Homo sapiens: one gene and its partners. The protein of the gene in region 1 purifies or fractionates together with the protein of each later gene. This does not show direct contact. Each region holds a gene or a part of one and is shown in the gene's direction. Other genes may lie near its edges.

Region 1 (7,028 bases):
GTGAGTGACCCCAGTTTTTGTGCCCTGGGAGACAGTGTAGGGGTCAAGCCTGTGTCTCTCTGAGAAGGCACTGCCCCTGCGTCTCAGGATCTGCCCACTCTGCCCTGAAGTCAGACCATGCCTTCCTGGGTGGGCCACTCATGCCCAGCTGCATGGCGAGCATGGGGACCCACCCCAGCCCTGAGCCAGGCAGGACGCGCAGCCCCCTGGCCGTTGCTGAAGACAGCAGTGGATCATGCCTGGATTGTGTGCCCTTAGCTCACGGGGAAAGTAAGGTTTTTATCACATTCTTTTTACTGAACTTTGCCAGTGAGCAAAGAGGTGATTGAATTTTCTTCTTCAAATGTCATTTTATTATTTGAGTTCTAAATACCTTCTGGCAAGTGCCAGAGACTTTCCTTTGATCACTGGTTAAGGTAATCACCCCAGCCACTGCCAGCACAGCCTCAGCTGGTGAGGACATGATTTCCTCTGCAGATTTTGCCTGGGTTTCTTCAGTGATTCTCAGTGCAATTCAAGTGATAACATCCTTTGTTTACATGTTTAATCCGATTTTACCACGGGTAAGACTATTTAATATACTTAGCACCATGTCAAACACTTTTTTTTACATTTCAGAAGAAAAGTTTATGAAAGAGTTTAACATAAACTGATGAAACCTTTCTTCCCCCTCTCTTCTTGTTTTTATGGTACTTTTCATCTTTAGGGCGTGGGTCTCCCATCTTAGCCATTTCAGGGCCTCTTCGGTTCCTCGAGCCTCTCCCTGAGGGCCACATATTTCAACACATTTGAATTAAAAAGAAAACTATTAATTATTATTTTGGATTTATAGAAGCAGGTTCCAAGAGTGGTTGTGATGTTGAATTTTTCTCCTCAAACTTTTTAAGATAAAGATTGTGGTTAAATATACATAATATGAAACTTACTATTTTAACTGTTTTTATGTGTGTACTTCAGTGGCATTAAATCAATTCACATTGTTGTGCAACCACCAGCACTATTTCCTATGCTTTTTCATTATCTCAAATGGAAACTCTGCACTTGTGAAACTATTCATGCCCATCCCCCAGACCCCGAGAACCTCTGTTCTACTTCCTGTTTCTCTGAATTTGCCTAGTCCAGGGATCTTAGATGAGGGGGATTCTTGAAAGTTCATTCATGTCATAGCACGTGTTAGAGTTTCTTTTTTTACGACTGAATAATATTCCATTGTGTGTACACGCCGCATTAAATCCATCTGCTGATGGACATGTGGGTTGTTTGCACCTCTTTGGCTGTTGTCAGTAATGCTACTGTGAATTCTGGTGTGTGGGGCTTCTTGGCTGTTTGTATATCTTCTTTGGGAAAATGTTGATCCAAGTCCTTTGTCCGTGTTTGAATTGTTGTCAGAGTGTTTTTCTCTTAACTCCTGTGTTATGATTACATTGATTGAGAGTTGTTGTTGGAATGGATTTCTTTTAAATTCTCTGCTATAGACCAAGATATGTTATGATTACATTGATTGACAGTTGTTGTTGGAATGGATTTTTTAAATTCTCTGCCATAGACCCAGATGTGTAGACATTTGGGCATGTTCTGTCCAACCCTACTTTCTGTAACCTCTCTTCGTTCCGTTGCCTGTAGATGTGGAATAGAGTAGAATGGACTGTGTGTTTCTGATCCACTGGGAAGAAATCAGTTGTCCTTTTCTTGCACTGGTGGAGAGGCTTTGGGAGGCGGGAGCAGTTTGCAGAGGAGAGAGCTGTGAGTTTGCGCTTCTCCGACCTCCTTCCCACCCACTTGGTCAGGGTTGTGTGTGGGGTGTGGTGTCACGTCCTGCACCTGCTGTTGCATCTGACTCTGTGCCCTTTGTTCATAGCACTGTGACTTCTGCCGTGTTCACCGTGGGAGACAACGTGGTTTCAGGCAGCGATGACCGCACGGTGAAAGTCTGGGACTTGAAAAATATGAGATCCCCCATTGCAACTATTCGCACGGACTCTGCCATTAACAGGTAAAGTCAAACTGTTGGTTAAGTAAGTGGCTTAGTTTGATGTGAAAGGATTGATTGTGATTTCATGTTTTATTCATGGAGGTTTAATTGATAGAACCCCGGGAACAATGGTTTAGGCTCCTTTGTCCTCTAATGCAGTTTCAGTATTCCATGAAAACTTAAACTAACTTAGCCTAAAACCAGGTTGGATCAGTGAGATTTGTGAGAATGAGAATGACCCGTTTGTGGCAGACATGCAGGGCTTCTCTTGACTTCTTGTGAGGATTGGTCTTGTGTCTGGGTGGGTCTGGTTCTACCATTGAGCAGTGTGTGTGTGTGTGTGTGTGTGTGTGTGTGTGTGTATTGTGTGTATGTGCATGGGGTCTGTGTGATCTTGTAGCTACGTGTGAGTAACTTGGTCTCTTTTGAATACCGTAAGCAGGTGGTACACGCAGTGTGTTCATGTAGTCGGCCTTGAAATGTGAATAATATGGAACCTCCTGCTTCATTATCTGTCAACTCAAAAACTTACAGTGTCACTGTTTCATGCACAACCCACTTTTACCTCTTCTTTGCAGGATCAATGTATGTGTCGGCCAAAAAATCATAGCCCTCCCCCATGACAACCGACAAGTGAGACTGTTTGATATGTCAGGAGTGCGCCTGGCGCGGCTTCCCCGGAGCAGCCGACAGGTAACAGCACGGTCGGTGAACATATGCAGGGCACAGTGGAGGAGGACGGGTAGAGATATTTTACATTCTCATTTTCTTACTAAGTCTTTGCATGCTAAGTTTTCCTTGGAAATGCTTGAGCTGTATTTAGAGTTCATAAAATTTAAAATTGAAGAAGTAGAGTTGTACACTCAAGTTATTCCACACCTACTTCAGTGTTTTTTTTTTTTGAGACAGAGTTTTGCTCTTGTTGCCCAGGCTGGAGTGCAGTGGCATGATCTCACGGCAACCTCTGTCTCCCAGGTTCAAGCAATTCTTCTGCCTCAGCCTCAGCCTCAATCTCCCGAGTAGCTGAGATTACAGGCATGCGCCACCACGCCTGGCTAATTTTGTTAGTCAGGCTGGTTAGTTAGTCAGGCTGGTCTTGAACTCCTGACCTCAGGTGATCTGCCCTCCTCCGCCTCCCAAAGTGCTAGGATTACAGGCGTGAGCCACCGTGCCCAGCCCAGTGTTCTTAATACCATGATCGGCTTTTCAGTTTACAAATAAAGAAAACATGCAGCTCCTCTGTTTCACAGGCATGCGGAACGAGCTCTTTGGTGCACGTGTTAGTGGTGGTGGCTCTGTGGGGAAGCCGTCTTAGATGTCTGCAGTTGTGTCTGTGCAGATTGGAAGTGTTGAGTGGGCATTGTGGCCAGGCAGAAGCTGGGTTGGTTGTAGGCTGGGGGTCTTTAAGGTGGGACCTCTTCCACCTCCAGCCAGAAGAACACGTTTCTATGGCAGGCTGTTGCGACAGGAAGAAATATATTTAAATGTTAGTTTCTTGTTAGTGAAGGGTTGCTCCTTGCTAACTTCAGAAGACGGCGGAGGGAGTTTCTCGCTATGTGCTGTTCAGCCCACCCGTCCTGGTTGCCTGGAAGGCGCAAAGAGAATCGAGACTCCATGGCACCCGCACAGATGCAGAGGCCCAGGGGGCCTGGGGGCCCGTGTTCAGATTCCCTGGCGGCTCTGCTGTGCTCTGCAGCCGGGCCTCACTATAATGTGGGTGGCGTTTGCTGTTGGCTCTCCCCTGGGAGGTCACAGGGTCAGCTGCGATGCACAGAAACTCCCCGGGGTCAGTGGCTGGTCGCAGTGGCTGACGCCTGTAATCGTAGCACTTTGGGAGGCTGAGGCGGGCAGATCACGAGGTCAGGAGATCGAGACCATCCTGACTAACACGGTGAAACCCTGTCTCTAATAAAAATACAAAAAAATCAGCCAGGCGTGGTGGCGGGCGTCTGTAGTCCCAGCTACTCGGGAGGCTGAGGCAGGAGAATGGCGTGAACCCAGGAGGCGGAGCTTGCAGTGAGCTGAGATCGCGCCACTGCACTCCAGCCTGGGCGACAGAGCGAGACTGTGTCTCAGAAAAAAAAAAAAGAAACTCCCCGTGGTCGAGGCAGCGTCTGCCCAGCCTTGTGCGTAATGGAGGCCCCCCCAGAGGATCCCTCTTTCCTGTCTTCTTTTGATTTTGTTGGAGTACTGTCTGGATACCTGTGTGAGTAAATGGATTTGTTCCCCGAGGCCTCCTGTGGCTGCACAGGGCCACACGCCTGCCGGCAGCTTGGGTGGCCCCCTCAGTGCCTCTGTGGCTCCTTCTGTGGACACCAGCTCATGGCTCGTGGGCCGCAGCTGCTCTGCACGGGGTGTGAGCCTCAGAACCTGCAGGCAGGCCGGGTGGTCAGGGAGGCACGTGCGAAAGTGGGGGTTCTCTCAGCGCAGCAACACCTTTTCTTCCGGTAGCACAGACTTTCTGGAAATGAGCTTCCCTGAGACCGGGTGTCTCTTCAGTCCCCTTCCTGGCATGAGAGTGCACTGTTTGAAGTTAATTATTGAGTTTTTACTCCTCGATACACATCCAAATAGTGGAGTAGAAAAATTTCATGAAATTAGAGTGACTAAAATATGCTTCACAACCCTTAACACAGCCATAAATTGCTTGTCCTGGGGAAGCTTTTCATGTTTTGTTAACAGCTGAGCATCACTCATGTGTCCTCACAGCTGCATCTTAGACACAGTAGAATGTTCTCTTTTCAATGTGCCCATGCGGATTTTAAAATTTCTGTGCAGCATGTAAAGTTTGCATTTTGAAACACAAATTCATGAAAACTATTTGTTTATGACTGTGAACTATGACTTTATTACTTTGAGAGTATTTTCCCTCAGAAAAACGGAATTCTGAATGGTTCTTCTTGGCCTTAATTCTGTGTAGACAGTTTTATTTTCAGTTATCTGTGAACATTCAACTTTGTTGATGTTGTAGGATTCTGTTGTGCCTGGGTTTATTCCCTCCTAAAGTGGTATGTGAAATAGATTTATTTTTAAGATTAATGAATGTGATTTAACTTTATTTAGAACTTGTAACACCTCTTCAGATAAATAAATGTGGTTTTCAGTGTCACAGAACCCTGCTGGAAATCACTGACTTATATTGTCCTTACTTCTTCAGCTGACTGACTTGAAAAAGAGAAAACAAAACACTTATTTGAGCCTTTAAGTAGTGGAGTGAAAGGGACTGATTGAAAATATTTCCCTGTAGTGCTGGAGTAGGTGTCACTTCCCAGCATGAGTTTTGGGAAAGCGAGCTTGGTGGAGAGTCAGGAGGTCCGGGGTCAGGGTTCCTGTGAAGAGCAGGCTCATTGGGCGTGAGGGTCCCTGCGCAAGGGTCTCTGTGACGTGGAGGCTCACGGAGTGTGAGGGTCCCTGTGATGTGGAGGCCCGTGGGGCCCCGTGCTGAGCGTCCTGGAGCACATCACGTGCACTGGGGCTCATGACGGCATGGGGCGTCTTCCGGGTGCATCTGCTTCCTGGGTGGCAATGCTGTGGGCGCATGAGAGATGGAAATCCCATGGGAGCTCTGCCGGAGGTGAAAGCCTGGCTGGCTTTCTTCTGGAAGCTCTTTGGCACTTCTGCAGCGAATGCCTTGAGTTTCACTGTGCAGAGCTCTTGCCCACAGCCTTGGTTTTGCCTCCAGTTAGTGGATGCATTGCTGCTTCCTTTTTTGTGCCTTTTGTAACCCTTTGTTATGTGGTCTTTCTTATAATTATTTTATTTTTCTGGCCTTTTGTGGATGTCTTTCCAGATGTATAAATAGCTATTGTGGTTCTCTCTCCAGATGTATAAATAGCATATTTATGGGGGAATATTTTCAGGAGAACTTTATGCCATTCTTTGAGTGTTTCTTAATCTGTCAACTTTACTTAATACTGACTCACTCTTGTACCTGATGCTGTAACAGCAACGTATCAGAGCTGTTGTGTAGTTTAGAAAATGCAGATGGGTGCTAAGGCACTGCTTACAGATATTCTAAGTGTTGGCTAAGAGCCTGCATCTGCTATGTACATACACACCGATATGCTATTGCTCTGTCACATATTTTGCAGTAACTTTTCCAGCATGCTGATATTTAACTGGAATTGCTGAAGATGGCAGGAATCTACCTAAAAGGCCATTTATTTATCCTTGTTTTATATGACACCAAATGTATTTTTGTAGTTCCATTATTACTGAAGCCAGTTATTTGTTAAAATGCAATTTGAAGTCTTTGAGTGAATATCATTTAATTTACCTCTAAATATCTCCTAGCTTCATTTATTCAAAAATTTCACATTGATCATTTATTTTTTTGTCTGACTGTAATCTTACTCATTTTCTTAAAGAAGGACTCATACAGTGCTTTTGGGCGGGTTCCACCAACCCTCGTGCTCACTGGTGTCTCGGCATCACTCATTCTGGCCTGGCTGCACGTCCTGGCGGCTCTGCCGTGCTCGGCGGTCCATGCTCGGCGGTCCATGCTCGGTGGTCCTGCTCAGTGGTCCATGCTCGGCGGTCCATGCTCGGTGGTCCTGCTCAGTGGTCCATGCTTGGTGGTCCATGCTCTATGGTCCATGGGGTGCTCGGTGGTCCGTGCTCGGCGGTGGTTGGTGCTCGGCAGTCCATGATCTGTGGCCCATGCACGGTGGTCCATGATCTGTGGCCCATGCACGGTGGTCCATGATCTGTGGTCCATGCTTGGTGGTCCGTGCTCGGTGGTCCATGGGACTGATCCTGCACACCATGTTGTTTTCCTATAACTTACGTACTTTGAGTGATGTGGTTATTCATTTCGCTGAGGTCTTATAATCTTACTTTCGGGAATAATGCACTGATTTTGGTTTGTTTGATCATCACTAGGGCCACAGGAGAATGGTATGCTGCTCGGCATGGAGTGAAGACCACCCCGTGTGCAATCTGTTCACCTGTGGGTTTGACCGGCAAGCCATTGGTTGGAACATCAACATCCCTGCATTGCTACAAGAAAAATAAGGACACCGGCAGCCCTTAGTTTCACTGTTTGCCAGCACAGACC
Region 2 (7,724 bases), on another chromosome or scaffold:
GGAACTCCTCCTCAGGAGTCTAGAAGATGAAAAGGAAGTGGCAAAGTAGACAAGGGCAATGGATGGAAAGTCAGACAGCTGGAACTAGGTAAGAATTAAAAAGGCAAGACAGTAGGGAGACAATAATTCACTGTTATAATGAAATCAAGAAAGGATGGTAAAACAATTCATTTTCATCATACACATAAGAGATAGCTAAGTGCCTATGTGTCATCGCTGTGGATACCACAGTTTGCTAAACAGAAGTGGTCACTACTCTCCTGGAACTGACAGTCTTGCTGTGCAGACAGGCATTAGGTGATCAAGCACACATGCTATTACACTTCAGTAAGTGCTATGAAAGCAACTGACCTAGTCTGTAGAGCTGGAAAACATGTCCTGAGGAAATAATATCTCAGCTGGGATCTGAAGGATTAAGAAGGGCCTCTTCATAAAAAACAAGCCTGGGGGCAGAAGTGTGAAAAGTAGGTTGTATGAAGGAAAATGTCTTATTCTTGTTCTTTACTCAGAGGGCAACAGAAGGAATGGCCTGGTAAGAGGAAGAAGTGCTTATATGTGGGTGCCAGGGTGAGATGCTTTCTGTCTGGAAGGTCACTGAGCCTATGAAAACTGAAATCTGTTCTGTCAGTCACTCTTGGTGAGGGAAATATGTTTTTTTGGTTTTGGTTTTTTTCTTTTGCACTGGGTTACTGGGTTTGTGGATTTTCCAGGCTCTACTGGTAGGTCATCCATCTTCTTTTCCCTCCTGCTCCAGAGTCATCAGTCACTTGATGGCTTGTGCAGAATGTGGTAAGGAGACAGAAGTTGAAACTCAGGTCTCAAGATTCTTCTCAATAATGTGTTAATTTCCATGCAAAATGTGTTAATTTCCATGCAAATGCACTTTTAAATAATTTGAGTCCTTCCTGGACATAGGAGAATGCATTTTTTTTTCTTTCTTTTTTTTTTTTTTTTGGAGACGGAGTCTTGCTCTGTCGCCCAGGCTGGAGTGCAGTGGTGCCATCTCGGCTCACTGCAAGCTCCGCCTCCCAGGTTCATGCCATTCTCCTGCCTCAGCCTCCCAAGTAGCTGGGACTACAGGTGCCCACTACAATGCCCGGCTAATTTTTTGTATTTTTAGTAGAGACGGGTTTCACCGTGTTAGTCAGGATGGTCTCGATCTCCTGACCTCGTGATCTGCCTGCCTCAGCCTTCCAAAGTGCTGGGATTACAAGCGTGAGCCACTGCGCCCGGCCAAGAATGCATTTTATACTGGGTTATAAGGTTTGAAGAATGCTTTACACATTTTTACACAAGGTGGCATGAGAAATTAAAAATTGTTTTTTAATTAAAGAAAGAGACTGCTTTACACACACTCTATACTAAAGGAGCTGTATTTCTGACAATGTATAACAGAGGATGAGGGTGGAGAGAGGCAAAAGGAGGCAGAACAGAGGATATGATAATAAAAGGTGCTTTACATACATTCTCTTATATGTTTCTCACAATGACCCTTAAAGTAGGGTCATTGTGGATACCACAGTCTGCTAAACAGATGTGGTCACTACTCTCCTGGAACTGATAGTCTTGCAGTGTAGACAGTCATTAGGTGATCAAGCACACAAACTATTACATTTCAGTAAGTGCTATGAGAGTCTTGTGGCACTGGGGAACGTGACCTGAGGAATGTAGATAAAGTAGGTAGCTTTACCTACATTTCACTTGAGGAAACTTAAGTCATGAAATTTGCTCAAGATTCCACAGTTGATATGTGTGGCTGCATGAATAATGTTTTTTTAGTTAGGCCTAGCTTTATACCCTTAGCCCATCCCTTAGTAGCAGTTAATTTAAATGTTTCGATCTGTTGTGGGGTTAATAGTATTTTCTAGTAGAATCGTGAGCATTAAATAAGTGGTAAACTGGCCAGGCGCGATGGCTCACGCCTGTAATCCCAGGACTTTGGGAGGCCAGAGTGGGCGGATCACTTGAGGCCAGGAGTTCAAGACCTGGCGTAACCCAGTCTGTACTAAAAATACAAAAATTAGCCAGGCGTGGTGGCATACACCTGTAATCCCAGCTACTTGGGTGGCTGAGGCACAAGAATCACTTGAATCAAGGAGACAGAGGTGGCAGTGATCCTAAGTAGGTAAACTGCTTAAGAGGGTCTGGCAAATAGCAGCTGGAATTAAATTTGGTCCTGTAGACTCCAAAGTCATGCTCTTTACCACTGCACTATATACTCTGTGAAAAGAGCCAGTTAATTTATGCCCAAGCTGGGGCTGGGCGCGGTGGCTCACACCTGTAATCCCAGCACTTCGGGAGGCCGAGGCAGGCGGATCACCTGAGGTCAGGAGTTCGAAACCAGCCTGACCAAGATGGCGAAACCCCATCTCTACTAAAAATACAAAATTAGCTGGGCGTGGGGGTGCACGCCTGCAATCCCAGCTACTCGGGAAGCTGAGGCAGGAGAATTGCTTGAACCCGGGAGGCAGAGGTTGCGGTGAGCCAAGGTAGTGCCACTGCACTCCAGCCTAGGCAACAAGAGCAAAACTCTATCTCAAAAAAAAAAAAAAAAAAAAGGCCGGGGGCGGTAGCTCACACCTGTAATCCCAGCACTTTGGGAGTCCAAGGCAGTTGGATCACAAGGTCAGGAGATTAAGACCATCCTGGCTGACACGGTGAAACCCCGTCTCTACTAAAAACACAAAAAAATTAGCCGGGCATGGTGGCAGGTGCCTGCAGTCCCAGCTACTCAGGAGGCCGAGGCAGGAGAATGGCGTGAACCCAGGAGACGGAGCTTGCAGTGAGCAGAGATGGTGCCTCTGCACCCCAGCCTGGGTGACAGAGCGAGACTCCGTCTAAACAAAAAAAAAATTATGTCCAGGCTATGGAATGGTAGGTCTTTCAGATAATCTGATCCAGCTAAAGTTAAGTGGATAGGCTCTGGAGTCAGAAGGCCTCAGGCATTTCCCTGGCCCACCAATGGGGCTGTCCCACTACAACTCAGTATCTCTTCACTCTAGTTAACACCATGTCTTCTAAGATCCTGTACATAGTCTTGTTCTAAGTATTAAGAGGAGATACAAAGGAAGAATAATAAATTCATTTAACAAATAATTACTGAGCATCTACTATTTAACAGATCCAGTTCTAGGTGCTGGGAATACAGCAATGCTCCCATTTAGTGGGGAATGCAAAGGAGGTCTTGCTTTTTAAGGGAGGGGAAGCAGGGCCTCCAACACACACCTTTTCTGTTAGGATGACTAGTGTGCCGCTCCATCTGAACACCAACAGGTGTGGTGCCTGGGAAAGAATCATAGCATCAGATGATCAACAATCCATGTTAGTATTTTCACTATGATAATTTCCTAAGTTGTCTCCAGCAGATCTCAGCCTGTTCCAATCTGCAGAGGAAAAAGTAGGAAACTCTATTTCATGGCCAAACAGGTGACTGTTCTTGAACTGTTGGTGCTCTCACGGCCCCTTCACTAGTTTGGAAAACAGTTTTCCTTTAGTGCTTCCTTTTTTTTCTGGACAAAATAGTAATTTAACCAAACCCAAACCTTAAACGTCTCTGACGAACAGGCAGTTACTTTCCGTGTTCTCACCATGTTTAATTTCCACGGTATGATAAGTCCTTCTCCTATCCCGAATGGTAATTTTAAAACTCTGGCTCCCCATCATCTCTAACTAAGACTCAGGACAGCGGGAGAGGGATGGATGTGGGGGAAAAAAATCTCAAAGCACCACAGGGAATACTTTTTTTTTTTTTTTTGAGATGGAGTCTCGCTCTGTCGCCAGGCTGGAGTGCAGTGACACGATGTCGGCTCACTGCAACCTCCGTCTCCAGGGTTCAAGCGATTCTCCTGCCTCAGCCTCCTGAGTAGCTGGGATTACAGGCGCGCGCCACCACGCCCGGCTAATTTTTGTATTTTTAGTAGAGACGGGGTTTCGCCATGTTGGCCACGCTGGTCTCGAACTCCTGACCTCAGGTGATCCACCCGCCTCGGCCTCCCAAAGTGCTGGGATTACAGGCGTGAGCCACAGCGCCCGGCGGAAATACTTGGGAAAATATTTTAGATAGGATAACTTAAGGAAACGCAAGCCATCACCCTCCGGTACTGCTCACAGCCTCACTGAAAGCATTTCCTAAGAAGGGAAAAGTCCACATACAGCCATTAGTCCAGAGGCGATAAACCACAACTCCCAGTGTGCCCGGAAAAAGGCTGCGCAGTCCGGCCCGGTAAGACTACAACTCCCACTTCACCCTGCGCCAAGCCGGCAGGTCTTTCCCCCATGTGCTGGCTGGAGTCCCGCCTCTCTAGTCCACCTGTTGCTAAGGCTAGACCAAAAGAGTGGGAACTGTGAAGCCTTTCTTAGCCTTCACGGTCCGATAGGAGCCGAGTCGCAATACACAGTTTAACGACCTCACCTGCGGTGTTAACCGAAAGCCGCAACCCCAGCACCCAACCCTAGAGTTGACACACATGCGTAGTGGTGTGCTGGCCAACTGCCAGAGCCTTGGCGCCTGCGCCGACGTTCGCGCTGCACGCGGCCGGGAGCGGCCACCCTACTGCGCAAGCGCCTGTGCCCTCCCAGTGCCTTCGTCGTGCGCTCTCTGTCTAACTTGTCTGGCCGTTCTTGCGTAGGGGGCGGGACTAAGGCTGTCAATTGGTCTGTTTTTGTGCCGATCAATGAGATGGGTGCGGTGATTGGCGACTACCTTGAGAGTAGCGGGTTGAGGTGTAAGCCCTGAGGAGGCAGCGTTTTCTGGGCTTCTGTCTGGTTCTCTCTCTCCAGAAGGTTCTGCCGGTTCCCCCAGCTCTGGGTACCCGGCTCTGCATCGCGTCGCCATGATGGGCCATCGTCCAGTGCTCGTGCTCAGTGAGTTCTGGGGATGCCAGGAAATGGACCCCCTTTTCGCCCTCTTCTGTCCATACTTTTCAGTGTTGCCCCAGCTCCGTCCCCCACTGACCGGGCCACTGAGCCTTCCAATCATCGTCTTCATTTTGGAAGCCCAGTGTCCCGCTTTCCTCTCTTCTCTTAACCTGTTCGCTTCTCTGCACAAACTCAAACTGGCCTTATTCTCGCCGAGCCTCTTTCCTTGACGTGTGCTCGTCTTGGGAAGCTCTTTCCCACTCCGCGTTCTGTCCCTCAGCCCCCACGCTTCCCCCGCCCCTGCGCCCTTTCTAGCCTGATTGTCGCTATGTAGCTGCACGAATAACGTTTTTTTTTGTTTTTTTTTCAGTTAGGTCTAGCTTTATATTCTTGGCCCATCCCTTAGTAGCGGTAATTTAAATGTTTCAATCTGTATTACGGAGTTAACAGTATTTCCTAGTAGAATTGTGAGAATTAAATGAGGTAAGTCGGTAGACTGCTTAAAGAGGGTCTGGTAAATAGGTAATATCCTTGGTCACTTTACGTTACATTTATTTTCAGTAACAGTCTCTTGAACAGCAATCCCTTTTCCCGAAGTAACCGTACTTGCCTCACTGATCTTAGATGTAATCGTTCCCTCCGTGTCCCCGGCGTTGTACTCTTTCCCACTAACCAGTTGGGTTTTCCCAGATTTCTCGACTGGTCACCTTTTCCTTTTGGAAGATCCCTTATTTTTTTTCTTTTTATATTTTGAGACAAAGTCTCGCTCTGTCACCCAGGCTGGGTTGCAGTGGCGCGATCTCTGTTCACTGCAACCTCTGCCTCCCAGGTTCAAGCGATCCTCCTGCCTTAGCCTCCCGAGTAGCTGGGAGTACAGGCGCGCGCCACCACGCACGGCTAATTTTTGTATTTTTGGTAGAGACGGAGTTTCACCATGTTGACCAGGCTGGTCTCCAACTGCTGATGAGCTCAGGTGATCCGCCCACCTCGGCCTCCCAAAGTGCTGAGATTACAGGCGTGAGCCACCGCGCCCGGTCCCTTATTTTTTTCTGATGAGCACCACCTCCATTGTCTTCCTTTGGTATGTTTCCATTCTGTGTGTAACTTCTGTACCTCATCTGCAGAGCCTGGCTAGCCATCTCCCCTCCCTTACCGTCTTCTGTATACTGACTGCCTTTCAGAGTTATTATTCATTATCTCTGTACCTGGGAAATAACTTTTAAGGAAAAAAATAAAATAAAAACGCTATTTTGAAAAAAAAAAGCCGCCTTCTTTCTGATGGATTGTAGGTCCATGCAGGTTTTTGGTTACAGCTCCCTGAGATAGATGTAAATCCTAAGCATTGTGGGTGTTTTGGTTTGATGGGACTGGATTGAAAGATTTACAGACTTAAATTGTAAAGGAAGGTAATTTAGAGAGAGGAAGGAAATAAACATTATGTTGGTTTGGTTATAACCACTGGCTTGTCTCCACTGACATGGCCTGGGGGTGAGTGGTGTATTTGCAAAGCTCCTTTCAGGTCTGCATTAATCTCTGGCATTAGTTGGCTGTGACCGATTAGCCTCCCAGTTAAAGTATGTAGTCAGTTCTTAGTGATGGTAAATGGGTTACTGAGGCCTTCTTATTACATCCAATTATGAGGTGACTATATAATTTATCTTGCAAACTGTTGAGTGTGTTCTAAACAGTATGCTGTGGGGGCGCTATCACTAATTATGCTGGACCTGTTAGAGTATGATCCCCCTATCCAAGCAGAAAAATGTGAATCCCCAAACTCTTTCCCTGCTTACGCAAAGCAATGAATGGTCATTTCTTAGGGTCACCAGCCCTTTGAGAATCTGATAATAGTTGTGGATCCTCTTTCCGGAAAAAAAAAAAATTGCAGTATCTCTCATTTTCTCACATAATCTCAGGGAGTTCGCTATCCCACTAAGGCCCATTCATAGATCTCAGGTTATGAATCCCTGCTGTAAATATAGGAATATTTGGTTAGAAGAAAAGTATTAACCAAGATTCCAAAGTTATTTCTTAATATACCAAGGATTGAAATACAGAAGGAAGTTAACAGCCATAAGGACATATGTTTACAGTTTTTTGAGATATGGTTGACATATAATAAACTGCACTTATTTAAAGTGTAGAGTTTGATAAGCTTTGCTCTGTGGATATACCATGAAACCTGCATTCTTATTTTTCAAAGACGGGGAAATAAATAGCTTGTGTACGATGGGGCAGTCCTGGGCTGTTGACTTGTGTTTTTGTCTATTTTAGGCCAGAACACAAAGCGTGAATCCGGAAGAAAAGTTCAATCTGGAAACATCAATGCTGCCAAGGTCACAAATCTTTTAAGTGTTTATGGTAGTTTGCCTCCAGCTATCTTTCCTGGTATTTGGTCATAGCCATGTGTCCTGTGCATCTAGACTTTATAGAGTAGGCAAATAGGCAGAGGAAAAGTTGACCTCTTTCAGAACATTTTCCTGATGATGTTAGGGGAAAGGAAGCCCTCCCCTTCTGAGTTAGGACTGATAATCTTCTCGTATTAACTTGTGCATTATTCTGTTGCTGTGTATTGTTTTATAGTATTCTATTTGTGTTTGTCTCCCATACTAAACTGAGTTACTTGAACATAAGTACTTTATTCCCTTTTGTATTCCTAGTGCCCACCGTAGATCTTGGATAGATATTCGGTAAATGTCTTTTGAATGAAATAGTGAAATAGCCTTATATCTGATTTAGGATGGTGTAGAGGCCACCGTCATGGAAAGAAATACTAAGACATGGACTTCTAGTAATTAGGACTGCTGGGAAACAAGCTCTGGGAGCCATTTCCCCCTTATTCTTGTGAAAAGTCATTTCTGTATCCATTC
Region 3 (7,547 bases), on another chromosome or scaffold:
GGTCACCGATCCCCATGCTGACCGGTAGGCACTTACGGACGCTCACTGACCCTGAGGAGGATAGGGAGAGGTGCCTCCGCTTGGCATCCTCCGTGGGCTCAGGCTGGTGGGTCTCAGTCAGGCATTATGGAAATGATCTGAAGTTCTAGACACAAAGGTCAAAGCATACAGTACACAAAAGGAGTGTCTGAAAGGAAAGCCAACTGTTATAAATAATGGGGGACTCAGCCAGGCACAGTGGCTCACGCCTGTAATCCCAGCACTTTGGGAGGCCAAGGCGGCAGACCACCTGAGGTCGGGTGTTCGAGACCAGCCTGACCGACATAGAGAAACCACCTCTACTAAACCCATCTCTACTAAAACCCTACTAAACTCTACTAAAACCCTACTAAAACCCATCTCTACTAAAAATACAAAATTTGCCAGGCCTGGTGGCGCATGCCTGTAATCCCAGCTACTGGGGAGGCTGAGGCAGGAGAATTGCTTGAACCTGGGAGGCAGAGGTTGTGGTCAGCCAAGATTGAGCCATTGCACTCCAACCTGGGCAACAAGAGCAAAACTCCGTCTCAAAAAATAAATAAATAAATAAATAATGGGGGGCTCAAAGGTGAAACCCCAGGCTGCCAGCAATGCTGCCCCCCCACATCCTGTGGAGCCCTCAGGGCCTGGCACCTTCTACACTGAAATCATTCACTCAGTCAACAAATGTGCATTAAGTGGGGTATGGTCGTGTGCACCTGTAATCCCAGCTACTCAGGGAACTGAGACGGGAGGGTCACTTGAGCCCATAAGTTGGAGGCTTCCGTGAGCCGTGATCATGCCACTGCACTCCAGCCTGGGCAACAGAATGAGACCCTGTCTCTAAAAATAAAATTAAAAATAAATAAATGTGCATTAAACACCTACCATGCATTGGGCTCTGGAAAGATGCTGGGAACACCCAGATAAATAAGTTATGGTTCTTGCCTTCAAGAAGTCCCCAGGTCGGCCAGGCGCGGTGGCTCATGCCTGTAATCCCAGCACTTTGGGAGGCCAAGGCGGGCGGATCACGAGGTCAGAAGTTCGAGGCCAGCCTGACCAACATGGTGAAACCCCATCTCTACTAAAAATACAAAAATGAGCCGGGCATGGTGACGCATGCCTGTAATCCCAACTACTTGGGAGGCTGAGGCAGGGAATCACTTGAATCCGGGAGGTAGAGGTTGCAATGAGCTGAGATCACGTCACTGCACTCCAGCCTGGGCGACAGAGCAAGACTCCATATCAAAAAAAAATAAAAAATAACAAAGTCCCCGGGTCTAGCAGCTGGACTCCTCACCCAAGACCCAGACATCCCAGTATGGCCAAGAGGGTCTCAATTTATGCCTATTGCCCCTGTGTCATTATTAATAGGTTCCACTTGCACTCTCAAAAGTGTTCTGGTTTTAATGATAAACTATGCGATCACCTTAACCATAGCACATTGTTATAGGCAATGGTGGAAATAGCTGGGGAAAATGGGAGTATGTGCTGTTAAGACTATGATGGAGGCCGGGTGCGGTGGCTCACGCCTGTAATCCCAGCACTATGGGAGGCCAAGGTGGGCAGGTCACCTGAGGTCAGGAGTTCAAGACCAGCCTGGCCAACATGGTGAAACCCCCTCTCTACTAAAAATACAAAAATTAGTCGGGCATGGTGGCGGGCGCCTGTAGTCCCAGCTACAAGGGAGGCTGAGGCAGGAGAATCGCTTGAACCCGGGAGGCGGGGTTGCAATGAGCTGAGATCTTGCCACTGTTCTCCAACGTGAGCTACACAGCGAGATGCTGTCCCAAAAAAAGACTATGATGAAAAGACTTTGGTGGAAGCTGTGTGAAAGCAAGAATCAGTCTGCTTAATGTGTGGTCAGAGGTCAGACCACCAGACTATGGAGAATGTGATCAGAGGATGATTTTTTTTTCTTTTCTTTTCTTTCTTTGCTTTCTTTTTTTTTTTGAGACAGGGTCTTGCTCTGTCGCCCAGGCTGGAGTGCAGTGGCGAGATCCTGCAGCCTCAACCTCTTGGGCTCAAGTGATCCTCCTACCTCAGCCTCCTGAGTAGCAGGGACTATAGGCGCACACCACCACACCCAGCTAATTTTTGTATTTTTTGTAGAGATGAGGTTTTGCCATATTGCCCAGGCTGGTGTCCAACTCCTGAGCTCATACAATCTGCTCTCCTCGGCCTCTCAAAGTGTTGGCATTACAGGCGTGAGCCGCCGCACTCGGCTGGATGATGCTTTTTATACGTGTCTGTTTCTCTAACCCCAGGCTTGCTGCTCTTCCCCAACCCCCAGGGTTAAAACTGAGCTTCCTATTATGAGTAGCATTAGCAACATGCACGGGCTTCCAACTTCAGCTGCACTGGGCCACTAGGCACAATTCTCAAAAACCCTGGAGTTTCATGAATACAAACTAAGTACCCATCAGTCAGGTGACCGGCTAAAAGAATTATGGTACAACCAAACAATACAACATTATCCAGCGTAAATGGAATGAGAACACCTACTGAAAGCGTGTAAAAAAAAAATCAGAGTGAAGAATAGCAGGTACAATTTTCTGCACATTTGTGTAACAAAAGAGGAACGAGTGTGTGTATACACATACGTATATACACACGCACACATAAGTATGTATGTGTATATATACACACATATATACACACTTTTATATATATTGATTATAAATATATATATTTTATATATACACTTATATATATACACACTATATATATACACACACTATATATATACACACTATATATACACACTATATATATATACACACACTATATATATATATGCACACTTTTTTTTTCTTTTTTTGAGACGGAGTTTCTCTCTTGTTGCCCAAGCTGGAGTGCAATGGCGCGATCTCGGCTCACCGCAACCTCCACCTCCTGGGTTCAAGCGATTCTTCTGCCTCAGCCACCCGAGTAGCTGGGACTACAGGCGCACACCACCATGCGCAGCTAATTTTTGTATTTTTAGTAGAGACGGGGTTTCACCATCTTGGCCAGGCTGGTCTCTAATTCCTGACCTCGTGATCCGCCCGCCTCTGCCTCCCAAAGTGCTGGAATTACAGGCGTGAGCCACCGCGCCCGGCTTTTTTTTTTTTTTTTTTTTTGAGACGGTGTCTGTGTCACCCAGGCAGGAGTGCAGTGGTGCGATCATAGCTCACTGCAGCTTGGAACTCCTGGGCTCAATCTGAGCCGTCCTGAGTGATACTCCCAGCTCAGCTCCCAAGTAGCTGGGACTACAGGCGCGTGCCACTACACCTGGCTTTTTTTAAACAATATTTTTTGTAGAGACGGGGGTTTTGAAATGTTGCCCAGGTTGGTCTCAAACTTCCGAATCCTGAACTCAAGTCATCCGCCTGGCTTCGGCCTCCCAAAGTGCTAGGATTACAGGCGTGAGCCGCTGCACCGCCCGGCCGAGAAGAATCTTACCAGTTCTCATCTTCCTTCCTCCCGTTTAAATGCTCACATCAAGTCGCTGGCTTTCCTCACCACGTGCTCTCCAGAACAAGGTCGGCTTTCCTTCGCAATTTGTGCGAGGCCCTACCTAAGGCCCTCCCAGCCCACCTCGGGAAGCTGAAGCTTTCCAGTTCTCATTAGAGCTTGACAAACGCTCCGAAGGTTATAGGCCTCGGGTGCTTCCCAAAGGCCCCCTGCGGCCTGGCCAGGAAAGACCCACCGGCGCTCTCTGCCTGGAGCACTTCAACTCACTGCAAGACCTGGTCCCAATGTCCCCTCTGCAGCATTCTCTGACCTCACCGTTCCGTCCCCGCCAAGCCCCTGCCAAGTGAAAAATACGAGTTAAAGCGTCCTGGCTGTGGATGGAGTCAGACCCGGCTCTACCCCTTGCTCTCTGTGTGACCTTGGTCTCGGCCTCCTCCACTGTAAAATGAGGACACCAGCCTGGAGGTGAGGACCCATGGGTCGAGGACGCGGGTAGGGAGCCCGTTCTGGCTCGGGGCAAAGTTTGGCGGGTCCATTCTGACTCTTGATCCCCATTAGCCACGTCTCGCCCTCGCCTCTCGTGCCCGTGCCCTAAGCGACCCTCCACTCCCTCAATAATCCAGCCGCACCCATTCGGCGGGAAAGGGCCTGCCGGGTGGGGAGGGCGCTGAGGGTCACGCGAACACCGCAGATGACAGACTGCGCGGTCATTTAGCAAATCTGCAAGAGAAAACAGGGGATCCTTGGAGAGGGGAGGATTAGCCATGGCAGAACCAGACCAGTCTCCACCCAAGGTCACAGTGCCCGCCCGACGGGCAGCGAGCAGCAGGGAGTCTCCCCGAGGCCCCGCCCCGCGAGGGCGCCCAGCCTCCCTGGGCCTTGAGTCAGAGTGCGTTGCCTTTAAGACGTTCTGGAAAGTCACCGCGTCCGTGGGCGGGGAACCAGGCGCGGCGCGTTTTGTCCCTCGCGGGCCGCCGTGGGCTGGGCCGGGCGCGAGGGTGGGGCAGGGAAACGGCGGCGGGGTCAAAGGCCACGGCGCGCACCACGTGGGCCGGTGACTCCGTCCTTCCCTCAGCAGCCGCGGCGCGCAGGGCACTTGGGTTAGTGGCGCGGCGGGCGGCGCGGACAGCCGAGGCGGACGCCCGCTCCCGCCACCATGGTTATCAAGACGGACGAGTTGCCGGCGGCCGCCCCGGCCGACAGCGCCCGGGAACACGGCTCGCAGGCCGGGGGCAAGGGGCGGCCGGGCGCGGCCGGTGAGCGGGGCCAGGGCCAGCGGGCCGCTGGGCGGGGGGCGCCGGACCAGGGCGGGCGGGTTCGGGACTCCGCGGGGATCGCCGCCTTCCCTCCGCGTCGGGCCCGGTTGTATCTCGCTGGGGCCTTCACCGGGTCGCCCCCGCGCTGAAGGTCACCTTCACAGTCGCCCCCGGCTGCGGCCCGGGTTTCGCACGTGCGGTCCCGTGGAGGGCAGCCTCGGCTGGCACCCTCGGCGGGCACACGCGCGCCTCATCGCGGGGACACGTGCGCGCACACGCGGTTTCGGGGTGCGCCGCCGCCGCAGACCGAAAGAATCGGCGGCCCCACCCCCTCTGCGCCCGAGCATGGGAGCTCTCTGAGCTGGGGTCGCTCCGACGTTTGCGGGACAGCCCCCTTCGGCACCTGCTCCGCGGCGGCCTCCCAGGCATCCCCTGTGCGCAGGGCTGCAGCCCTGGGAGTGAAGCTCCGCTCGAGGCTTCCCAGGCTTGGTTTGTGGGAAGAGCACGAGGTGCGGGGTGTGCGTTGTGAGGGGCGTCCCTGGTTCATGCCCTGAGGCCAGGCTATAACCGCAGGTCTTCAGGCTGTGGCGGAGACTCTCAGGTGTGTTGGCCTGCTCGGCCGACCTGGTGTAGGGGGCGTCTGCCTTTGCATGGGGCAGAGCCAAACTCCTTGGCAGGGGGAAGTGTTTGTGCCAGAACTTGATCATTAACCTGCCTTATTGCGAAAAGTGGGTCAGACCAGAGTTGCTGTTTTTAAGGCAAAGGTCGTTAGTGTGGAGTCAAGCTCCCAGCGATCCCCCATGGGGGCTGTATGGTGGTGACTGTGGCAGTGGCTGCAGCTTGTCTCGGGTGGGGCCTGCTTTCCCTTTCTCCTGAGCCCCTTCTCTTCCTTCTGTTCCCTCCACCGTGTCTCAGACTCCAGCCTTGGGGCTGGAATCCCCTTCCCAGGCCCTCAGTCGTCATCTTCCTCAGGCCCTCTTTGCTCTGGGTGGCAGTGGAGGTGCAGAGCTACTCCTGTCCCCCAGTCCCTCCCTCCTCCGTCGACTGTCCTCAGTTGGGACTTGTGGTCTTAACGCCTCATCATCTCCCTTCCTAGCTTCAGTGAGTGCGCCAGGGCTGACTTGGGAATCAGGATGGGGACAGCGTTCAGCCCTCTGACCCTGTTCCCATCATAGCGGAGTTGCCTTGGGGTGAGGGACAGGTGCTGGGGCAGTACTGCTGATTGTCTAGACAAGGCCAAGGTTTGGGCAGAAGAGCAGATGCTCATCGCCCCAACCTACCAGGCTTTGTGCTGATGTGGCTCTGAATCAGTGGGGGCAGGCTGGATGAGAGGAGGTTGGCTGATTTCCCCTCTAGCAGAGACCCGAAGAGTCGAAGTGACTTGCCCAAGGTCACACAGCGATTTAGCTGTTAAGGGAAGTGTTTGGATTCCAGCTCATGGCCAGCAAGCCAAGGCTGCCGTGGCCTGGCCCAGAGGAAGCTGGGACAGGCGTGTTGGTTTGGATCCCGTGCTGAGAACTAGGGGGCTGACGAGCGTCTGTTGGAGGATTTCTGTGAGGGAGTCAGTGAAGCCCCTTCCTAACTCTGCTGGGGGTGGGGGGGCTCTGTCGGGGGTAAACTGAGTCAGGGAAGGGCACAGCTATTTGTTTTGGGGAAACTGGGAGCATACTCGTGGGCAGGACATGGGCTCCTACGTCCCTGGGAAGGTAGTACAGCTAGCTAGGACTTACGTTACAGCCAGCCCGGATCTATTGAAAGAAGGAAGGAGCCTTAATGAAGACCCCCCAGCTGGGGCCCACCTGAGCATCAGAACCAAGGCTTCTGACCTCTGAGATCCAGCTCTGGAAGGCTCTTCAGCCCCCTTAGGAAGGAGCTGATCTAGGCCATTGAGGGTCGGGGGCAAGGGTTGGTTACCTTCCTGGGAATACAGCGGCTTTTAGGGGTTAAGAGAACAGGCAGGTTTTTCAGGTCCACAGTGGTGCGTCAGGTTCCTTCTGCCCAGGGGAGGGCTCCCTGGAGTTGAGGCCCAGAGGGGGAGGAGGAGGAGGCTGGCAGCTGGGGAAGGAGTCTAGGGGCTTATGGGAGCTCCGCAACAGGATCTTGGATGGGATGTGGGGAGAGCAGCCTGAGGAACTCTGAACTGTCCTCAGGCCCTGAACGCCTGCCTCTGGCCTGGGTGGGACAGGAAGGAGGCAAACAGGTGCCTGGTCTGTAGGTTCTTCCATAGGCCGCCTGCCCGCCCCATTGCCTTTCCCTGAAGCCCTGGGCTCCCGGGACGGGTGATGCACCTTTTCGGACCCTACTTCCTGCTGGAGCCTCACTTGCTGAGGCCTTGGCTGGGGCGTGGCCTGGCCCTGGCACAGTCTTCTGAGTGAGATTGTGCCTGGCTTGGGCAGCACACAGGTCCTCTGGGAGGCCTAAGTTTCTTTTCTAGTTCCTCCTCTCTGCCGCCTTTGAGCTCCCGGCGCCTCCAGGCCGGGGCAAGGGTGTGCTTTGTCTCTTCACTAGCATCTGAGTTTGCGTGTATGCAGAGTGCTGTTGGGGCACGGCTCTCCCGCTCTGCAGAAGACCTCCTTTTCCCCTCCCCTAAAGCTCACATCCTCAGAGGTGCTCCTGGACTATGAGAGGAGGGAGTATTGGCCCAAGGGTGTAGAGGCCTTGGGGAGTGCTGTGACTGGGATAGTTCTGCTCCCCCCCCCCCGAGTAGAGGCTGAGGCCTGGACGAGGAGGCAGGTGCAGCCTACCTGTGGGTGCTGCCGGGCCCCTCGGGAGGGGGTGGGTGGGCTGCGCTGAGTGGGAGTGGGTCAGTGGGAGCGG
Region 4 (7,028 bases), on another chromosome or scaffold:
TTTGAGGTCTCCTGGGTGTCCTTGTTCATGTTGTTTAGAATATATAGGCAACATGCAGCACTCTGTGGAGGGATTAACATTCTTGTCTCATGTAACTCAAACGGGACACAAATATATGAGATACATGCCCCTTAGAAATGTAAACATGATTGTGGATCTAAGGTTAGGTGTGCATAAGAATGTCATGGGATTTGGTCTCTTAGGGCAGAGAAGAGGGGCTCGAACAGTACAGTGTTAGGAAGGTCCTGCTGCTTTTCTTGATGCCTGTCAAAATATAATTTTCTTTTGAAAAAAATACCGTTTCCTGTATTAGATATTTAAATAAAGAGCAGTGTAGTTGTTCTTCAGGTAGGTGTCTGCTCTTATTTAACATCTGTTAAATTCCCCCAGAATACATAGTACTTTTGAAAAACTTTATATAGGTGAATAGCTTACTCACAGCTGGTTTTAAAAGAATGAAATTGTTCTGTTGATCACATTTTTCACCAGCATTTTTTGTTTTTTTTCTTTAGATGGAGTCTTGCTCTGTCATCCAGGCTACAGTGTAGTGGCACAGTCATAGCTCACTGCAGCCTCCAACTCCTGGGCTCAGCAATCCTCCAGCCTCAGCCTCCCAAGTAGCTGGGACTATAGGCATGTGACATCACACCTGGCTTTTTTTTTTTTTTTTTTTTTTTTTTTAAAAACAGGGTCTCACTATGTTGCCCAGGCTGGTCTTGAACTCCTTGCTTCAAACTGTCCTCCTACCTCGGACTCCCAAAGTGCTGAGATTACAGGTGTGAGCCACTGTGCCCAGCCTTTTACCAGCATTTTTTTTAAAGACAAAATGATTAATATATGTCCATGATTAGAAATTTGAGCAGTATGGAAAGATGGAAAGCACAAAGGAAAAAGCCCCCAGTCCATCCCTCTTCTCACTTCCCAGAGGTAATCACTGTGAAATACAGTTGGCTTTTAAGATTCTGTTACAAAAAGGTAGTTTTGCTATAGTTCCTTTATCTTTTATGAAATTCAAGCTTTAGAAGTTAGCATTGTTTTCCCTTCATGCTAAGTAGTACTTCCTCTACTATGGTCCAGTATGGCATGGACCGTGGTGCAGGGTTATGGGGACCAGGTGGCATGCTGCTTGATGTTAAAGGAAGGGTGTTAGAGCCTCATTGTTGATCCCTTCCCTTCTGCCTTTGTATGGTGAGGTTTCCCTGATGTTCTTTTCTTTTTGTGTTGCTGTAAGTAGGAGAGGCAGAAAAATTACTAAATTTTACAAGCATTCAAAATTTCCTCAGTGGCATAAAAGTGATTATTAAGAGATGAAATGTGCTCTGCTGTATCATTCGCAAACCATATCCAAAGCCCATTTGCATACCCTTATGTGTATGTGAACTTAGGGTAGGAGTTGGCAGTTATCAGTCACTTTTCTCCTTAGGTCACATTTTTTTTAAGTGGGTGCTGAGGTCAAGCCTTAATGGACAAAAGCGTTGGAATCACAGAAGGTGGCCATAGCTGAGTTGGCATGACTGGTCTGCAGCAGAAGTGTTACTTTCATGAAAACGCTTGGGGGCATTTGCCCCTTTAACCACAGAAGCACTATACGAGCCAAGATATACTACTCTATCTTCTTACTATATACTAGGACAAACTCTTCCATGCATTAGTTTAATTTTATTAATTTTTTTTTGGTGTTTTTTTTTTTTTTTTTTTGAGATGGAGTCTCGCTCTGTCGCCCAGGCTGGAGTGCAGTGGTGCAATCTCGGCTCACTGCAAGCTCCGCCTCCCAGGTTCGCTCCATTCTCCTGCCTCAGCCTCCCGAGTAGCTGGGACTACAGGCGCCTGCCACCACACCTGGCTAATTTTTTGTATTTTTTTGTACAGATGGCGTTTCACTGTGTTAGCCAGGATGGTCTCGATCTCCTGAGCTTGTGATCTGCCCGCCTTGGCCTTCCAAAGTGCTGGGATTACAGGCGTGAGCCACCATGCCCAGCCTTTGTTTTGTTTTTTTGAGACACAGTCTTGCTTTTTTACTCAGGTTGGAGTGCAGTGGCACAATCACGGCTCATTGCAACCTAGACCTCCTGGGCTCAAGCATTCCTCTCACCTCAGCCTCCTGAGTAGCTGGGACCATAGGCACTTGCCACCATGCCAGGCTGATTTTAAGATTTTTTTGTAGAGATGGGGTCTTGCTGTGTTGCCCAGGCTGGTCTCGAACTCCTGGGCTCAAGTGATCCTCCCGCCTCAGTCTCTCGAAGTACTGGGATACAGGTGTGAACCACTGTGCCTGGCCCATGCCTTAGTTTTTTCATCTTTATGGGAATACTTTTACTTACCATCCATTCTTAGATGTGGATGAAATATATATAAAATTGGATCTATAGAAGCATGGGAGAAAGTATTTCTTAAATTATAGGTATAAAGTAAATGTAATTGATCAAATAAGAAAGACCTGATGAAATTTCTATTACTACCCTAGCATTAAAAGTCCTTTTTTTTTTTTTTTTTTTGAGACGGAGTCTCGCTCTGTCCCCCGGCTGGAATGCAGTGGCGCGATCTGGCTCACTGTAAGCTCTGCCTCCTGGGTTCACGCCATTCTCCTGCCTCAGCCTGCCAAGTAGCTAGGACTGCAGGTGCCCGCCACCACGCCCAGCTAATTTTTTATATTTTTAGTAGAGACGGGGTTTTACCATGTTAGCCAGGATGCTCTCGATCTCCTGACCTCGTGATCCACCTGCCTTGGCCTTCCAAAGTGCTGGGATTACAGACGTGAGCCACCGCGCTCAGCCACATTAAAAGTCTTAAAAGCATGTTTGTACCTTAGGAGATTTGAATTTCACATTGTGAGTGTTGTAATAGAATATCATCTCTATCAGGGTAATAGTATCCATCGTCCCTGTGGAAGCTCAGATTACATGAGTTAGAAAGATAATGACTTTCACAGAGTCCATTTTACATGTATTGATTTACAGATCTTTTGGACACCTTAGCGGTTATGTGATTTCTTTCTAAACTAGTTTTCCAATTTCTTAGCTAAGCCAGTAAGTTGTCACTGTTGTTGTAGGTGCTGGAATGAGGGCGGGTACGCCTCAGAAAATGTTAGAGCTGCGTCTTTTCACTACCTCAGTTCAGGAGGCTTGTCCAGTTTGGACTTGGACTTTTTTTTTTTTTGAGACAGGGTCTTGTTCTGTTGCCCAGGCTGGAGTGCAATGGTGCGATCTCGGCTCACTGCAACCTCCGCCTCCCAGGATTCTTGAGCCTCAGCCTCCCAGGTAGCTGGGACTATAGGCGCACGCCACCACACCCAGCACATTTTTGTATTTTTAGTAGAGACGGGGTTTCCCCATGTTGGCCAGGCTGGTTTCGAACTTCTGACCTCAAGTGATCCGGCGGCCTCGGCCTCCCAAAGTGCTGGGATTACAGATGTGAGCCACTGTGCCTGGACTGGCCTGGACTTGAAGGTGTTGATGTAGATGCCAGCATGCATCTACATGGTGGGTCCTCTGAAATTTGGTGTTGGCCTGGCTTGCACCCATGTTGTCACATTCCGGAAATTCCGTGGGAATCTAGCGTAGCTGTGGGAATGATTTGCCAACGTTGGTCTTCTTCCAGCACAGGGCTTGAGGTGATATTGAGGGCTCTTGAGGAAAGTCAGAGTTTGGAGTTGGACTTAGAACTTCTTTCAGAGGGCCATCAAGCAAGGTGGGCAGTCTCTTAGGTTGGCAAGCACTGACAGGGTCTTCTTTGTGGACCTAGATAGAGGAATAACCAGCTTCCAAAGGTTTTAGAGACCAAGATATGCACCAGCTCTAGAGTGTTACCCCTTATAGATGTTCACAGGGCAGTCAGCTGGACCTGTGTTCCCCGTTATCTCATTAAAAACCAGAGAATGGCTTTGGTCACAACTCAGGGATCGCCACTTAGGCAGACCTGCACCCTGCCTCTTGACCTTGGGAATCGCAGTAGAACAGACAGCTAACCAATGAAACACATCTAGAAAACTTCTAGAAAATAGTTTATTAAAACATTCCAAGGCTGGGCGTGGTGGCTCATGCCTATCATCCCAGCACTTTGGGAGGCTGAGGCGGAAGGGTCACTTGAGCCCAGGAGTTTGAGACCAGCCTAGACAACATGGCAACCCCTCTCCACAAAAAATAAACAAAATTAGCCAGGTGTGGTGGCGTGCGCCTGTGGTCCCAGCTACTCAGGAGGCTGAGGTGGGAAGAGCACTTGAGCTCTGGAGGTCGAGGCTTCAGTGAGCCATGATCTCGCCCCTGTACTCTAGCCTGGGCAACAGAGTAAGACCCTGTCTCAAACAAAAATGGGTGAATAGAGAATGTTCTAAGTCATTACTTTCCTTGTGTTGAGGTAGATGGTGAGGCATAGGTGATAAAATAGTGTTGATGGCAGGTTTGTTTATTTAATTTTGTGCAGATCCTTTTAAATTGTAAGTTTGTTTTTTTTTTTTTTTTGAGACGGAGTTTTGCTCTTGTCACCTAGGCTGGAGTGTAAAGGCGCAGTCTCGGCTCACGGAAACCTCCGCCTCCGAGGTTCAAGCAATTCTCCTGCCTCAGCCTCCCGAGTAGCTGGGATTCCAGGCATGCACCACCATGCATGGATAATTTTGTATTTTTAGTAGAGACGGGGTTTCACCATGTTGGCCAGGCTGGTCTCGAACTCCTGACCTCAGGTGATTCACCTACCTCAGCCTCCCAAGGTGCTGGGATTACAGTTGTAAGCAACCATGCCTGGCCAACTGTAAGGTTTTTAAGGTACAACAAAGGTTGGAATATTTGAGTTTAGTGCTAGCTTCAACAATTTTTCTGAATCTCAAATATCGTTCTTCCTCTTTTCTCCTTGTGAGTAATGATCTGTGTCCACTCTCAGATCAACCTGGGCTCCCTTCATCCTTTCAACACTTTCAGTACTTTTAGTTTTGTAAATACAGTGGTATCCACAGGTCATTTTGGCAAAAACACTTTTTAGAACTGTATGCGTCTTAGAAATTGTGATGTGGGTAATTTGCTGTGTATGTTTTTTAGTGACCTCGTATAAATATAGGTAGATGTGAAAGGAGTGACGCCTTAAATTTGCTCCCTACTGTAACACCTGTTCCCTTCTTTGTAGTCTGTGTAACTCCTCCAAATGACAGATCTTTTGGACACATTAGTGGTTATGTGATTTCTTTCTAAACTAGTTTTCCAAACTACCTCTCAAAACTTTATTATGAGTAGGATTTCCCCCAGCTAACATTTTGGGTATGACTGGCATGTTAATTGTCTCTGAAGGATTTTAGACTGGTTATTTTGTTTTTGATTTTGAGATAGGCTCTCACTCTGTTGCCCAAACTGGAATGCAGTGGCATGAACACAGCTCACTCTGTTCAGCCTCAACCTCCTGGGTTCAAGTGATCCTCCCTCCTTAGACTCCCAAGTAGCTGGAACCACAGGCACATGCCAACATGCCCTGCTAACTTTTTAATTTTTTGCAGAGACAAGGTCCCACTATGCTGCCCAGGCTGATCTCAAACTCCTGGGCTCAAGCAATCCTCCCGCCTCAGCCTACCATAGTGTTGGGATTATAGGCGTAAGCCACCGCACCCAGGCTAGGCTGGTTATTGTGCTGAGATATAGGAAGGCGTTTTTTCTTTTCAGCTGTTTTCTTTTCTTTTTCTTTTTGAGACAGAGTCTTGCTCTCTTGCCCAGGCTGGAGTGCAGTGGCGCTATCTTGGCTCACTGCAACCTCTGTCTCCCGGGTTCAAGTGATTCTCCAGCCTCAGCCTCCCAAGTAGCTGGGATTACAGGTGCATACCACCATGCCCGACTAATTTTTGTATTTTTAGTAGAGACAGGCTTTCACCATGATGGCCAGGCTAGTCTTGAACTCCTGACCTCAAGCCCGCGTCAGCAGATTACTGGCGTGAGCCACCGCCCAGCCTCTTTTCAGTTGTTTTTCTGAAACATTGTGTGTGTTTGTGTGTGAGTATGTGCACTTCTGTATCTGTCTGTGAGTTTTCTTTTGTTCCTCTTGGTAGGTGAGACATTCTTTGTAGCAGGTTTTTTTTTTTTTTTTTTAATAGTTTATTGCTGGGAAAAGGTCTGGGTAAAAAAAAAAAAAGTTTAGAACACACTAAGGCTTGGGGCATCAGTCATCATTTACTGATCCCTCCTCACTAACCTTTTCCTGCCTCTTGTTTACAAACACCAAATGGCTTCAGGGTTTAGGGAGCAGCTTTTCCCTTCTGTTTTTCTGTTTTATGGTACCTCTCAAACACATTGCATTGTAATCCCTCCCAACCTCTGCCACCTTAGTCCTTCCCAGAAAGTAACCACTAGTGGCAGTTCAGAGTGATATTTTAAAATGAAAATCAGAACTTGTCACACCCCCTCTATAATCTTCCAGTTCATTCATTCAGCAAAAGCTTATAGACCAGCTGATATGTGCCGCAAGCAAAATCCTTGATCTCATGAAGTCTGCATTCTAGTGGGTGAAGATAAGAGACACCATCCAGTAACTTTCCGTCATACTTAAAAAAGATCCCCTTTTCATGGTTCAGGAGATGCTAAACGATGCAGCCCCTTCCCATGTCTTTGACCTCACCTTTGCGTTCTCCCCTTGTTCCTGCGGTGGGTCACCCTCGCCTTAGGGCTTTTGCACTTGCTGTTCCCTCTACCTGTGATACCCTTTCCCTGGATCCTTGGATCGCTGAGACTAGCTCCTGGGTATCATTCAGCTCTTCACTGACCTGCTACCTTGGAAGGCTGTCCTCACCTGCCCAACCCCTTCTGGGAGTTTATAAAGCTACTTCACACCTACTCGCCATTACTGGAAATAATCTTGTTCCTTTATTTAGTTACTTTATAGATGCTCAATAACTACATTTGTCAAATCAATGACACTGATTTTCCTATAGTGTTTTATAATGTTTATTGAATGACTATCTGTTATGCACAATTCATCCATTCACCAAATATTTACTGAGTGTTTCTGTGTGCCAAGCACTGATCTAGGCTCTGGAGAAGCAGCAGCAGACAGGCTGACAA

The links.
Region 2: the proteins of WDR37 (region 1) and CCT3 purify together in Homo sapiens (affinity purification with mass spectrometry; 2 studies listed by BioGRID and IntAct, with this or other methods). This does not show direct contact.
Region 3: the proteins of WDR37 (region 1) and CLUH purify together in Homo sapiens (affinity purification with mass spectrometry; 3 studies listed by BioGRID and IntAct, with this or other methods). This does not show direct contact.
Region 4: the proteins of WDR37 (region 1) and PACS1 purify together in Homo sapiens (affinity purification with mass spectrometry; 4 studies listed by BioGRID and IntAct, with this or other methods). This does not show direct contact.

The regions. Positions count from the first base shown.
Region 1 is NC_000010.11:1,122,360-1,129,387, forward strand, and holds part of WDR37 (WD repeat-containing protein 37), read left to right. Parts: intron 1-1,858; coding exon 1,859-1,993; intron 1,994-2,550; coding exon 2,551-2,665; intron 2,666-6,853; coding exon 6,854-6,985; 3' UTR 6,986-7,028. UniProt on the Homo sapiens protein: Required for normal ER Ca2+ handling in lymphocytes. Together with PACS1, it plays an essential role in stabilizing peripheral lymphocyte populations.
Region 2 is NC_000001.11:156,335,293-156,343,016, reverse strand, and holds the start of CCT3 (T-complex protein 1 subunit gamma), read left to right. Parts: upstream 1-4,724; 5' UTR 4,725-4,832; coding exon 4,833-4,863; intron 4,864-5,227; exon of another isoform or gene 5,228-5,340; intron 5,341-5,467; exon of another isoform or gene 5,468-5,703; intron 5,704-5,776; exon of another isoform or gene 5,777-5,938; intron 5,939-7,128; coding exon 7,129-7,190; intron 7,191-7,724. Other genes in the region: TSACC (TSSK6-activating co-chaperone protein), read right to left, coding at 3,226-3,282, 4,247-4,277. UniProt on the Homo sapiens protein: Component of the chaperonin-containing T-complex (TRiC), a molecular chaperone complex that assists the folding of actin, tubulin and other proteins upon ATP hydrolysis.
Region 3 is NC_000017.11:2,708,745-2,716,291, reverse strand, and holds the start of CLUH (clustered mitochondria protein homolog), read left to right. Parts: upstream 1-4,527; 5' UTR 4,528-4,630; coding exon 4,631-4,730; intron 4,731-5,038; exon of another isoform or gene 5,039-5,239; intron 5,240-7,547. UniProt on the Homo sapiens protein: mRNA-binding protein involved in proper cytoplasmic distribution of mitochondria.
Region 4 is NC_000011.10:66,073,263-66,080,290, forward strand, and holds part of PACS1 (phosphofurin acidic cluster sorting protein 1), read left to right. Parts: intron 1-7,028. UniProt on the Homo sapiens protein: Coat protein that is involved in the localization of trans-Golgi network (TGN) membrane proteins that contain acidic cluster sorting motifs.